Homo sapiens: one gene and its partners. The protein of the gene in region 1 purifies or fractionates together with the protein of each later gene. This does not show direct contact. Each region holds a gene or a part of one and is shown in the gene's direction. Other genes may lie near its edges.

Evidence for each region. The genes of interacting proteins can lie anywhere in the genome.
Region 2: the proteins of KIFC1 (region 1) and ASPM purify together in Homo sapiens (pull-down; one study listed by IntAct). This does not show direct contact.
Region 3: the proteins of KIFC1 (region 1) and RRP12 purify together in Homo sapiens (affinity purification with mass spectrometry, with the first as the bait; one large-scale study listed by BioGRID). This does not show direct contact.
Region 4: the proteins of KIFC1 (region 1) and TPX2 purify together in Homo sapiens (affinity purification with western blotting, with the first as the bait; one study listed by BioGRID). This does not show direct contact.

What each region holds. Positions count from the first base shown.
Region 1 is NC_000006.12:33,398,323-33,401,822, forward strand, and holds part of KIFC1 (kinesin-like protein KIFC1), read left to right. Parts: coding exon 1-65; intron 66-1,689; exon of another isoform or gene 1,690-2,322; intron 2,323-3,500. UniProt on the Homo sapiens protein: Minus end-directed microtubule-dependent motor required for bipolar spindle formation. May contribute to movement of early endocytic vesicles. Regulates cilium formation and structure.
Region 2 is NC_000001.11:197,094,670-197,098,169, reverse strand, and holds part of ASPM (abnormal spindle-like microcephaly-associated protein), read left to right. Parts: intron 1-2,005; coding exon 2,006-2,172; intron 2,173-3,500. UniProt on the Homo sapiens protein: Involved in mitotic spindle regulation and coordination of mitotic processes.
Region 3 is NC_000010.11:97,373,841-97,377,340, reverse strand, and holds part of RRP12 (RRP12-like protein), read left to right. Parts: intron 1-3,446; coding exon 3,447-3,500.
Region 4 is NC_000020.11:31,780,790-31,784,289, forward strand, and holds part of TPX2 (targeting protein for Xklp2), read left to right. Parts: intron 1-1,459; coding exon 1,460-1,601; intron 1,602-2,915; coding exon 2,916-3,132; intron 3,133-3,500. UniProt on the Homo sapiens protein: Spindle assembly factor required for normal assembly of mitotic spindles. Required for normal assembly of microtubules during apoptosis. Required for chromatin and/or kinetochore dependent microtubule nucleation.

The sequences.
Region 1 (3,500 bases):
TACCACATCCCACCCAAGAGTTCCATCCCTCACTACAGTGCCACAGACACAAGGCCAGACCACAGGTGGGCTCTCAGGATGGATAGACTCCAAGGACATGGAAGTCCAGTGCTCTTCAACTCACTTGTTTCTTTTCTTTCAATTTTATTTTATTTTTTTTGAGACAGAGTCTCGCTCTATCGCCCAGGCTGGAGTGCAGTGGCTCAATCTCACTCACTGCAACCTCCTCCTCCCAGGTTCAAACGATTCTCCTACCTCAGCCTCCCGAGTAGCTGGGATTACAGGTGCCCACACCATGCCCAGCTAATTTTTGTATTTTTTTCAGTAGAGATGGGGTTTCGCCATGTTGGCCAGGCTGGTCTTGAACTCCTGACCTCAGGTGATCCACCCGCCTCTGCCTTCCAAAGTGCTGGGATTATAGGTGTGAGGCACCGCACCCAGCCTATTTTGAATAGGTAATAACATTTCATTTGGTTCAAAATTCCAAAGGCACAAAGGTTGTTGTATAGTGAAGTTTGCTTCCTATTTCTGTCCTCCAGCCACCCAATTCTGCTACCCAGGGCAACTGTGTGTTCTTCCAGGGAAATTCTATTGGTATTCAAGCAAGTAAGACTATACTCCCCCACCTTTTTTACATAAATGGTGGCATACTTTAGACATGGTCCTGCTTTTACTTATCTTAATCCAAATTGCTTTTTGGCATATGGAGTACAGTTGGCCCTCTGTATCCGTGGGTTCTGCTTCTGCAGATTCAACCAACCATCGGTTGAAAATATTCAAGGAGAGTGGGCACAGTGGCTCATGCCTGTAATCCCAGCACTTTGGGGGGCCAAGGTGTGTAGATTACCTGAGGTCCGGAGTTCCAGACCAGCCTGGCCAATATGGTTGAAACCCTGTCTCTACTAAAAATATAAAATTAGCCAGACGTGATGGCCCGTGCCTGTAATCCCAGCTACTCTGGAGGCTGAGGCAGGAGAATTGCTTAGAACCCAGGAGGTGGAGGTTGCAGTGAGCCGAGATTGTGCCAGCCTGGCGACAGAGCGAGACTCGGTCTCAAAAAAAAAAATGAGAAAATATTCATGGAAAATAAAAAATAAAACCAAAAAATACAGTATAACAGTTATGGTCATGTGTCACTTGGCAATGCAGATACATTATCAGAAATGCATTATTGTGGAAACATCATAGAATGTACTTACTGAAACCTAGATGATCTAGCCTGCTACACACCTAGGCTATCTGCGATAGCCTATTGTTCTTGGGCAACAAGCCTGTGTGGCGTGTTACTATACTGAAGCATGGTAGGTAACATAACACAGTGGTAACCATTTGTGTATATAAACATACCTAAACATAGAAAAGGTACAGTTAAAATATAATATAAATGATAAAAAATGGCACACCTGTACAGGGTACTAACCATTAAATGGAGCATGTTTGAATGGAAGTTGCTCTGGGTGAGTTAGTGAGTGAGTGGTGAGTGAATGTGAAGGCCTAGGGCCTTACTGTACACTGCTGTAGACTTTAGAAACATGGTACAGTTAGGCTACATCAAATTTATAAAAAATAGTTCTTTTATAATAAATTAACCTTAGTTTACTATAACTATTTTACTTTATAAACTTAACATTTTTTTTCCCACTTGCCAAGGCTGATGTAACATTTTAATCTTTTTTTAACTTTTTTTTTTCGACCAGTTGTCAAATGATCCTTTATTGAAATATTTTCCTTTGTGCTTAACTAGCTGGGCATTCCACAGCACCACTGTTGATGTCATCTATGATGTCATGAGGGTGGTGGCCATCAACATTACAGCCCATAGACTGGGCAGTCCCCGGAATCTCTTTAATGGTTCCAGAGAGTTCTCTGGCTAAGGATCGGTGCCGCATCTGTCGAGCAATGTTGACGATCTCATCAAAAGTGATATTCCCATTGTGTTTAATGTTTTTCTGTTTCTTTCTGTCTCTTGGTGGTTTCTTGAGGGCTTTGATGATCGGGGCAGAGGCAGAAGGCACCACCTCAATCTGGGCCTGTCTGTTCTCAATGGTCAGTTTCACTGTAATCCTCAGGCCCTTCCAGTCACCCGTTGCCTTGGCAATGTCATCACCAACCTTTTTTGGAGACAGACCCAGGGGGCCGATCTTGGGGGCCAGGGCAGAAGTGGCACCGACTTCACCTCTGGTGCACCTCAGGTATACGACCTTGATCTCGTTGGGGTCGAACTTCGGTGGCATGGTGGAGGCAGCTGGTGTCGGATGAACCCAGATTCAGGATGACCGAAGAAAGTTGCACCTTGGCCTCCTCCGAGCCGAAAGCCGAGAGCTTCTCTCTCTTTTTTTTTTGAGATGGAGTCTCGCTCTGTCGCCCAGGCTGGAGTGCAGTGGCACAATCTCGGCTCACTGCAAGCTCCGCCTCCCGGGTTCCCGCCATTTTCCTGCCTCAGCCTTCCGCGTAGCTGGGACTACAGGCGCCCTCCACCACACTTGGCTAATTTTGTTTTTTTGTATTTTTAATAGAGACAGGGTTTCACCATGTTAGCCAGGATGGTCTCGATCTCCTGACCTCGTGATCTGCCTGCCTCAGCTTCCCAAAGTGTTGGGATTACAGGCGTGAGCCACTGCGCCCGGCTAACTTTTTGACTCTTGTAATAACAACTGAAAACACAAACATTGTATAGCTTTACAGAAATATTTTATTCCTTTATATCCTTATTCCTCATGCTTTTTTTCTATCTAAATTTTGTTTTGGGCGGGGAGCATATATTCAGGGCAATATGAATCTCTGTCTCCTGGCTTGAAAATAAAATTTTTGTTTTTTGTTTTTTGTTTTTGAGACAGAGTCTCGCTCTTTCGCCCAGGCTGGAGTGCAATGGCGTGATCTCGGCTCAGTGTAACCTCCGCCTCCTGGGTTCAAGTGATTCTCCTGCCTCAGCCTCCCGAGTAGCTGGGACTATAGGTGTGTGCCATCATACCCAGCTAATTTTTTGTATTTTTAGTAGAGATGGGGTTTCACCGTATTAGTCAGGATGGTCTCGATCTCCTGACCTCGTGATCCGCCCGCCTCAGCCTCCCAAAGTGCTGGGATTACAGACATGAGTTACTGCGCCCCGCCTGAAATTCTTTTTTTAATTTAAAATTTTATTTATTTGTATTTTTTCCAAGAAATAAGCTTAAATTTGAAAAATTTTAAATATTATTTTGCTTTTCAAACTTTTTGTTAAAAACGAAGAAATATACACATTAGCCTAGGCCTACATAGGGTCAGGATCATCAACATCACTGGCTTTCACCTCCACATCTTGTCTCACTGGAAGATCTTCAGGGGCAGTAACACACATGGAGATGTGACTTCCTGTGATAACAATGCTTTCTTCTGGATTGCCTTTTTTTTTTTTTTTGAGACGGAGTCTCGCACTGTCGCCCAGGCTAGAGTGCAGTGGCATGATCTCGGCTCACTGCAAGCTCCGTCTCCTGGGTTCACACCATTCTCCTGCCTCAGCC
Region 2 (3,500 bases), on another chromosome or scaffold:
TTGGGATTTAAGCACACTTTGTTTCTTCTCTCAACCCTTGGTTTCTTGATACCATAATCTCTTAGCTGTCTTCTTTCCCTCTTAACGCTATGTTGGCTTCTCTTGTCAATGTCTGTAAATTTTGATGTTCTTCAGGTGTGATGTGTGTGTGTGTATATATATATATATTTGTAAATATATATATACACACACGTATATCTATACATATATATAATTTTCTCATTAAAACTTTGTTTTAATGGGTCTCAAAATTCTGTGACAGATTTTCGGTCAATTTGTTTTCATTAAAAAGTACTGATTTTAAAAACTAGTAACTTATAACTGCCACAAGCAAAACAAAAACAAAAACACCAAAATGGTCCACAAAACATTCTCCTTTCCTCCTGAAGGTTTTATGATGCAGTGTTACCATTAACCAGTCTTTTACTGTTACAGTTAAATGGCCAATTGAAACAAACAGTTCTGAGACCATTCTTCTACCACTGATTAAGACTGAGGTGGCAGGTATTGGGGATATACATAAATAATGTATGCAGATTTACATAAAAACCGTATACAATATAGTCTGAATGAGTTAAGGTCATCTCAGAGTAATTTTGGCCATATATAATTATTGCATTATCAACTGAATTTAGAACCTAATCTAAATATACGTTGTGCCTATAGTATTTGTTGTGCTGCGGGATAATTAAGGAATCAGAGAGACCGAGGGATTTGAGGAGGAATTATTTAATTATTTATGTGCACCGACCCAGTCGGATTAACATCCAAAGAGGACTGAGCCCTGAACAAAGAGTCAAGCTACCTTTTAAGCATTTCGTGGGGCATGGGGAGATCTGTGCAGGGGGAAGCGTATTACAGAAGAGAGAAACAAAGACAGTTATTCAAGTAAGAGATGCATTACATTATTTCTTACTTTTTAAGGAACAACATGTTTTACAACTTGAGATTATCTGTCTAGTGTCCTTGCAGCTGCACAGCTAGAGAAACAGTCTTCACAATGCCTGGGAAAGGGAGAGATAAGGCTCACTAGCCACAGAGAGAAAAACACAGTTAATTTTAAAGGACTCCAGCCCTTTCTCTTCCCAAGGGGAATTGGGTTTTCTTACATACAACTGAGTTTTTGCTTACACAGTCTTTAATTTCTTTTAATTCCTCTTCCTGTAGGGATGTTGGAGTCAAATAGACTTGGGTTCAAATCTTGACTCTGTCACTTAACAGCTATATGCTAACAAGTCCTTCTTAATTTCAATTTTGGATTTTTTTCCTTTTTTATAAAACAGAGATCTTAACCATTTTATAAGATATTTATAAATATTAAGTAAGACAACTCTGCCACTTATTAACCTGTGTGACATCAACAAGTTACTCAATTTCTCTAGGCCTTGATTTCCTCATCTCTAAATTAGAGATAATAGTATTATCTACCCATGTGATTATTAAGGACTAATCTTCTTAGTGCTTAGTTCAATAAGTTGTAGCTGTCATGTAAACCTTTAGTCTTCCAGAAGGTTGTCAAAATCAGAAAGTCTGACAGTCCTATCACAGGAGCTCTCAGGATTCTCCTGCAGGCTGAACACAGAACCCAAAGTGAATATGGATTGGGAAGAATTCCTCTTTCTCCCCAGAACCTGCAGTAGGTCAATGTGTTCATTTTCTTTTCTTCCAAATGGATTGAGGTGATGAGGATAATTTACATAATGTGGGGCTTTTCAGACATGTGTGTCTTACAATTTATAAATACTGGTTAGGGTTTTGTTAGGCTGGGCTGGCAGCCAGCCATAAGGTATGTGTGATAAAGCACATAATACGTGTTCACTATAGTAAGCACCACTGTTCTCAGAAGACTCATTACATGTCAAAGTCTAAAAGAGTCATGATATGACTATGCAATTTATTTTTGTCTGCACTAACCTTATTTTAACTGTCTTTATACTGATTTGTCTTATTTACAAAAAAAAAGAGACAACTCATTGCATACTTGTTATATTTATGTATTTAATAGGCTATGTGGAGGAGATATAGAGCCAAGAAATATTTATGTAAAGTGAAAGCTGCCTGCAAGATTCAAGCCTGGTATAGATGTTGGAGAGCACACAAAGAATATCTAGCTATATTAAAAGCTGTTAAAATTATTCAAGGTTGCTTCTATACCAAACTAGAGAGAACACGGTAATGTATCATAGTTCTGTGGAGAGTGTAAAAGTATTTGTGTGTGATAGCTAAGTCTTTACATAAAATAACACTGCTTATTGATTTTTATTTTAAATATTTGTTATGCTTAATTTATATGGTTGGTTTTGTTGATATTTTCTTTATTAAGGAAACAAAATACATCTCTCGTACTGTCTTGCTTTTTTGAGATAGAGCATAGCCTTTAATTAATATAATCTAAAAATATTATATACTTGATTAATTCAGGTTCATAAGGATTAGAGTAAGGACAGAGACGTAGGAAGTGAATAAAATCATTTAGTTAAGACTTGGTTTTCTTATTAGTGCTTTGGGCCATTTTGCTGGGTGACTTAACTACTGGCAAAATTTGTTTTCTTACTCATTCTTTTTTTCTTTGAACTTTGTATTATTCCTCATACTCTTTGTCATTAATGATGAAGACCCTAATTACCAACCTGTCTATGCTAATTGTATTTCACTATTCCTAGCTTATTTCTCACACACACATTTTCAGAAGCTGTTACCAGATCATCTTTTTTTAAGTTCATAGTATAAGAATTTTTCTTCAGCTCCCAGAGTTGATGAATTATTGAATCAATGATGGTTTTAAAGATGGTTTAGGAAGGCACACTAGTGTGAGAGGAATTTTTGGATGAAGCCCATGGGTAGAAGCAGGGCTTAACATATACAGTTGATCGCATGAAGATAGAAGTAGAATGTTGGTTACCAGAGGCTAGGATAGGGAGAGGGGAGGGGTGGATAACGACAGGCTGGTTAATGGGTACAAAAATACAGTGAGAAGGAATAAGATTTACTGTTTAGTAGCACAATAGGGCAACTATAGTTAACAATAATTTATTGTATATTTCAAAATAACTAGAGGAATAGAATTAGAAGTTTCCTAATAGAAGGAAATGATAAATGTTCGAGGTGATGGATATCCCATTTACCCTGATTTGATCATTACTCATTGTGTGCTTGAATCAAAATATCACATGTACTCTGTAAATATTTACAACTATTATATATCCATAAAAATAAAAATTAAAAAGCATATAAAGATACAGTTGCTACTATCAGCTATTAAGGACCAGTATCTAATTTTCCTGTAACAGATGCTGAATTTTTCTCAATGGTGTTTGGTCCTATTTTCTAAGAAACATGGCAACAAAACAAGCTACTCATTGTACTTTTTCCACATTATCAAGAACAGAGTAGAAAACCTGTCCATTCTCACATTTTATCTCTTAGTATTATGTTGATCCCTAAAATTTAATCTCTAGTGCTCAGATTTTTTAAAATTTTTCTCCAGTTCTGTTTACGAA
Region 3 (3,500 bases), on another chromosome or scaffold:
TTCACCATGTTGGCCAGGCTGGTCTCAAACACCTGACCTCAGAAAATCTACCTGCCTCGGCCTCCCAAAGTGCTGGGAGTACAGGCATGAGCCACCATGGCCAGCCTGTCACACTACTTTTTAATGACAGAGTTATTGTGATAGAAATCATACGTACCGTGGGCTGGGCACAGTGGCTCACACCTGTAATCCTAGCACTCGGGGAGGCCGAGGTGGGTGGATCACCTGAAGTCAGGAGCTTGAGACCAGCCTGGCCAACATGATGAAACCCCATCTCTACTAAAAGTACAAAAATTAGCCAGGCATGGTGGTAGGTGCCTATAATCCCACCTACTCGGGAGGCTGAGGCAGGAGAACGCTTGGACTCTGGGGGGCGGAGGTTGCAGTGAGCCAAGATCGCACCACTTCACTCCAGCCTGGGCAACACAGCGAGACTCTGTCTCAAAAAAAAAAAAAAAAGAAAAGAAAGAAATTGTATGGCCTGCCGAGCTTAAAGTACTGGTCCTTTTGCACAAAAAGTTGGCTGACTCCTGGTCTAGGGCAGTGGTTCTCAACAAGGAGGGTGATTTTGCTGCCTGTAGGACATTCAGCAATGCCTGGAGACATTTTTGGTTGTTACCGTTGGGGGATGGGTGCTCTGGCATCTAGTGGGTAGAGGCCAGGATGCTGCTAAGCACCCTGCAATGCACAGGACGACCTCACACAACAAAGAGTACTAGGCCCAAAATGTCCACATTGTCAAGATTGAGAAACCCTGCTCTAGGGCAGTTTCCTGATTTCACACATGATCTTGTAGAATATACAGGAAGTGCTTAAAGAAGAAAGTAAGGCCAAGCGCAGTGGCTCGTGCCTGTAATCTCAGCACTTTGGGAGGCTGAAGCGGGCAGATCATGAGGTCAGGAGTTCGAGACCAGCCTAAACAACATGGAGAAACCCCGTCTCTACTAAAAATACAAAAATTAGCTGGGCATGGTGGCACGCACCTGTAATCCCAGCTACTTGGGAGGCTGAGGCAGGACAATCGTTTGCACCCAGGAAGCAGAGGTTGCAGTGAGCCGAGATGACACCACTGCACTCCAGCCTGGGAGACAGAGCGAGACTTCATCTCAAAAAAAAAAAAAAAAAAAAGAAAGTAAAAGTCATTCAGTCTTCCCACCCAGAAATTGTTACTACTCAAGTTTTTAATGTATTTTCCTTTGCTTTGTTTGGGTCGGTTTGTTTGTTTGTTTGTTTGTTTTGAGACAGAGTCTTGCTCTGTTGCCCAAGCTGGAGTGCAGTGGTGCGATCTTGGCTCACTGCAACCTCCACCTCCCAGGTTTTCAAGCAATTCTGCCTCAGCCTCCTGAGTAGCTTCGTCTACAGGCGTGTACCATCACCCCTCGCTAATTTTTTTATTTTTAGTAGAGACAAGTTTTCGCCATGTTGGCCAGGCAGGTCTCGGACTCCTGACCTCAAGTGATCCACCCGCCTTGGCCTCCCAAAGTGCTGGGATTACAGGTGTGAGCCACCATGTCTGGCTGCATTTTTTTCTGTGTAAAAATAGTATTGTATTTCTACTCTGTTGGAATTAATGTGCACATATTAGTAACTTAAAGTTTTTCCTGATATTAAAAAGGAAAAATTTGTTCTATTTTCAATAGAAATATATGCCCATCAAAGAAAATACAGATGAACCCCCAAAATGAGGGTCATTACCATCATTAATGTTACCTATAAACCCTGGCATTATTCTTAAGGCTGATGTTATGTATTCCCTTTGTCCTGGTAATACTACACGCAGGTATCTGTCCTGAGAAGATAGACAAGTGCGTACTGATTTATGTTCCTAGCAAAGACGTGCCTGACAGTATTGGCTTATACTGGCAAAAACTGTAACACATCTAGTATCTTTCTCATTAGGGTTCCAGTTAAATTAGTTATGGTAAAGCCCTACTTTTGGCCAGATGCAGCAGCTTACGCCTGTAATCCCAACACTCTGAGAGTCTGAGGCAGAAGGATTGTGTGAGGCCAAGAGTTCAAGAACAGCCTGGGCAACATAGCAAGACCCTGTCTCTATAAAAATTTTTTTTTTTTTTTTTTAGTTAGCCAGGTGTGGTAGGCTCACCTGTAGTTCCAGCTACTTGGGAGACTGAGGAAAGAGGATTTCTTGAGCCCAGAAGTTCAAGGCCAGCCTGGGCAACAGAGTGAGACCTCCGTCTCTACAAAAATATTTTTTAAGTCCCACTTTGGGATATGATGTAGGCATTATAAAGAAAGAAAGAAACCACTAGGTAGGGACAGACAAGTTTAGCAGATGGTGAGTCGAACAGACACGGTTTATATCCCAACTCCGCCGCTCCACAGTTCGTGGCTTGGGGCAGGTTTTGTTTAATTTCCCAGGGTCTGCTCCTCATCTTAAAATGGGCAAGTTTTGTGAGGATTAAATGAAAAAGTCATGTGAAGTGCTCATTACAGACTACCACATAGTACTTGCTCAGTAAATGTTACCAGCTTTATTGTCAAGTAAACAAGGTTACAGAATGCTATATATATAGTATATTCCTCCCTATGGTTTTTTTTTTTTTTTTTTGAGACAGAGTCTCGCTCCGTCACCCAGGCTGTTGTGCAATAGCACGATCTCGGCTCACTGCAAGCTCCACCTCCCGGGTTCACTCCATTCTCCTGCCTCAGCCTCCCGAGTAGCTGGGACTACAGGTGCCTGCCACCACTCCCGGCTAATTTTTTGTATTTTTAGTAGAGACGGGGTTTCACCATGTTAGCCAGGATGGTCTCAATCTCCTGACCTCATGATCTGCCCGCCTCAGCCTCCCAAAGTGCTGGGATTACAGGTGTGAGCCACTGCACCCAGCCCCTGTTTATGTTTTACAAAGTGGGCATGTGGCTGGGTGCAGTGTTGCACACCTGTAATCCCAGCACTTTGGGAGGCCGAGGCACATGGATCGCTCAAACTTAGGAATTCGAGACCAGTCTGGGCAACATGGTGAAACCCTACGTCTACAAAAAGTTAGGTGGGTGTGGTGGCATGCACGCCTGTAGTCTGCTTCTTGGGAGGCTGAGGTAGGAGGATCGCGTGAGCCTGGGAGGTCAAGGCTGCAGTGAGCCCAGATTGCGCCACTGTATTCCAGCCTAGGCCACAAAGTGAGACCCTGTCTCAAACAAAACAAACAAACAAAAAAAATTGGGCATGTGTTTAAAGAAGTATAAAAAAGTAACAAGAAACAGAGGCTATCTCTGGGGGAGTAAGAGTATGGAGAGACGTTTGCTTTCTGTTTATTATAGGTTCATTTGAGTATTTTAGAATGAACAAGTATGATTTAATTCATGGAGATGGGGGGAAGTCACCCATATTCCTGTCCTCATCATTGGGCTTTTGGTTTGGTTTGGTAAATAAGGCTGTTGGCCAGGAGGGTGCTGGGCTCACACTCTGTCCCTCTGTCACACTGCAGCCATGGACCTGGCTCAGGCAGGCAGCACAGTGGAATCTAAGATCTACGACACAC
Region 4 (3,500 bases), on another chromosome or scaffold:
TTAACATAGTTTTTAACTTTCTCCATTTGATTTTCTGTAAGATGTGGTCTTGATGCTTTTATATTGATTTCATAAAATTGGGAGTTTTCACTTGGTCTTCTTTTGTTATTTATTTATTTATTTATTTTCCTTCTTGTTTTGCTTTTTAGAGACAGGGTCTTGCTCCGTCACCCAGGCTGGAGTGCAGTGGCGTGATCATGGCTCACTTCAGTGTCCAACTCCTGGGCTCAAGCAATCCTCCTGCCTTAGCCTTCCAAGTAATTGGGACTATATATAGGTGCATGCCACCATGCTTACCTAATTTTTATATTTTCTTAGGAGACAGGGTCTCATTATGTTGCCCAGGCTGGTCTTGAGCTCCTGGCCTCAAGCAGTTCTCCTGCTTTGGCCTTCTAAATTGCTAGAATTACAGGTTTGAGCCATTCTGTTCAGGCTTTACTTGGTCTTTAGGAAGGCCTTATATCTTTTTTTTTTTTTTTTTTTTTGAGACAGAGTCTCGCTCTGTCGCCTAGGCCAGAGTGCAGTGGCGCTCATTTGGCTCACTTGGCTCACTGCATGCTCCGCCTTCCAGGTTCATGCCATTCTCCTGCCTCAGCCTCCCGAGTAGCTGAGACTACAGGCGCCTGCCACCACGCCCGGTTAATTTTTTGTATTTTTAATAGAGACGGGATTTCACCGTGTTAGCCAGGATGGTCTCGATCTCCTGACCTCGTGATCCCCCTGCCTCGGCCTCCCAAAGTGCTGGGATTACAGGCGTGAGCCACTGTGACCGGCCAGGAAGGCCTTATATCTTAAAGCTGGAATAAGCAAAAATTTTTTGTGTTAATAACAAGCAAAATAATTGGCATTGTCAATAGAAAGTATAGGCCTGGCCAGGCACAGTGGCTTAACGCCTATAATCCCAGCACTTTGGGAGGCTGAGGTGGGTGGATTGCTTGAGCCCAGTAGTTCAAGACCAGCCTGGGCAACATAGTGAAACCCTGTCTCTACAAAGAATATAAAAATTAGCTGGGCATGGTGGTGCATGCCTGTAATCCCAGCTGCTTGGGAGGCTGAGGTGGGAAGATCACCTGAGTCCAGGGAGGTTGGATTTGTAGTGAGCCTTTATGCCCCTGCACTCTAGCCTGGGCAACAGAGTGAGACCCTGTCTCAAAAAAAAGAAAGTCAGTCTAGGCCCGTGCAGTGATAAGGAACCTGTCAGACATGGATGGATTTTCAGTTCAGAAGATGACAGTAGAGTTTACCCAAAGGCTACCTTAGTCATACCCCTCAATAAAAGAGGAATAGGGGAGAAGTAACTGAATGTTGGTTGGTTTGACCAATGTAAGCTGAGCTGACTGTTGTGGGCCCACCACTCTGTGGTTGGTTTATCCCTCTCTGGGCTACATAGGTGAATCACCACTTACAAGTAAACTGGGTCTTGCGGATCTAGATGAACATCTGTCATCTCTGTTTACAGACCTGTTACCCTCCAAATCTTCTGTGACCAAGATTTGCAGAGACCCACAGACTCCTGTACTGCAAACCAAACACCGTGCACGGGCTGTGACCTGCAAAAGTACAGCAGAGCTGGAGGCTGAGGAGCTCGAGAAATTGCAACAGTAAGTCCCACTGGCAGTATCTGAGGAAGAGTTCCACGAACCTGCCTACTTTATTTTCAGTTCTGTTAGGGTGACAGTTGCTATTTTTCTTTCCGTAAAAATTTATGGCATTTGAGTAGTAGGCTCTGCAGGCTACGCCCCTGCCTATATGATTTAAGGACTATAGTGGGAATATGGAGATGTTCTGGAGTATAAACTGGTAAAAATTGAATCCAGGCTGGGTGTGGTGGTTCACACCTGTAATCCCAGTACCTTGGGAGGCCGAGGCAAGAGGATCACTTGAGTCCAGGAGTTTGAGACCAGCCTGGGCAACATGGTGAAACCCCATCTCTACAACAAATACCAAAAAAAAATTAGCTGGGCATGGTGGCATGCGTCTGTAGTCCCACCTACTAGGGGGCAGCCTGAACCCAGGAGGTCAATGCTTCAGTGAGCCAAGATCACGCCAATATACTCCAGCTTGGGTGACAAAGCGAGACTGTCTTGCACATACACACATACACACACACACACACACACACACACACACACACACACACACAAAATCTAATCCAGAGGTTGCAGTAGAAGAACTTACTTAGGATTTCAATTAAGGAATGCCCTCTAAGGTTAAGTTAGGTAGATCCCACCCTTTTGTGACTCCCCAAGGGATTGTTACAGCTATTATTAGTGGAGGGAAATGGAAACTTAGTGTGATTCGTAGCATTGGAGTTTATTTCCTGTATCCTTCTTCCATTCCTTTTTGTGCTTCTTTTGAGGAGGGGGAGCTTCTTCTGTGAAGTGAAGCCTCAATTCTTAAGTGGTAGGGATGTTAGGACTGTCTGATTTATTCTTTCTTCTTTTATTCTTTTATTATTTTTTATTTATTTATTTTTTTTGAGATGGAGTTTCGCTCTTGTTGCTCAGGCTGGAGTGCAGTGGTGCCTCTAAGCTCACTGCAACCTCCGCCTCCTGGGTTCAAGAGATTCTCCTGCCTCAGCCTCCCTAGTAGCTGGGATTACAGGTGTGCACCACCACGCCCAGCTAATTTTTGTATTTTTAGTAGAGATGGGGTTTCACTGTGTTGGCCAGGCTGGTCTTGAACTCCTGACCTCAAATTATCTGCTCACCTTGGCTTCCCAAAGTGCTGGGATTACGGGCATGAGCCACCGTGCCTGGCCCATTGTTTTTCGTTTTTATTTATTTTATTCTGTTGTCCAGTCAATGGGAGCATAATCTTAATGATTACTATTCTTTGTGGTTGGCTTACTTTGTTTGTGAAGTTTTCATTTTATTAAAATTTTTTTTGTGGTTATTTAAATTTTCACCTTACAGATACAAATTCAAAGCACGTGAACTTGATCCCAGAATACTTGAAGGTGGGCCCATCTTGCCCAAGAAACCACCTGTGAAACCACCCACCGAGCCTATTGGCTTTGATTTGGAAATTGAGAAAAGAATCCAGGAGCGAGAATCAAAGAAGAAAACAGAGGATGAACACTTTGAATTTCATTCCAGACCTTGCCCTACTAAGATTTTGGAAGATGTTGTGGTAAGGTTGAGGCTATGTGTGCTGGCAGAAGTGTACTGCTCATGACCAGATATCCACCCATTCACACAAAAGTTTGGGTAGATATTATGAGCAGGGCATCATATTAGGAACTGCAGGTGATAAAGAGACTTATCGGAAGTGGATTTTGCTTTTAGTTAACTCAAAGTCTGGTATGGGAGACAATATATGTGTGAATAATAGAAAATGGACAGAAGTGTTCTGAGAGAGATGACAGTTAAAATAGGAATTCAGAGGAGAAAATGGTTTCTTCCAGATAGAAAGTTCAGGGTGTGCTTTGTAGAGAGGCACATTTGACCTGAGCCTTGACGATGTACTGTAGTAATAGTTATTGTGTTGCTATTGTTGTC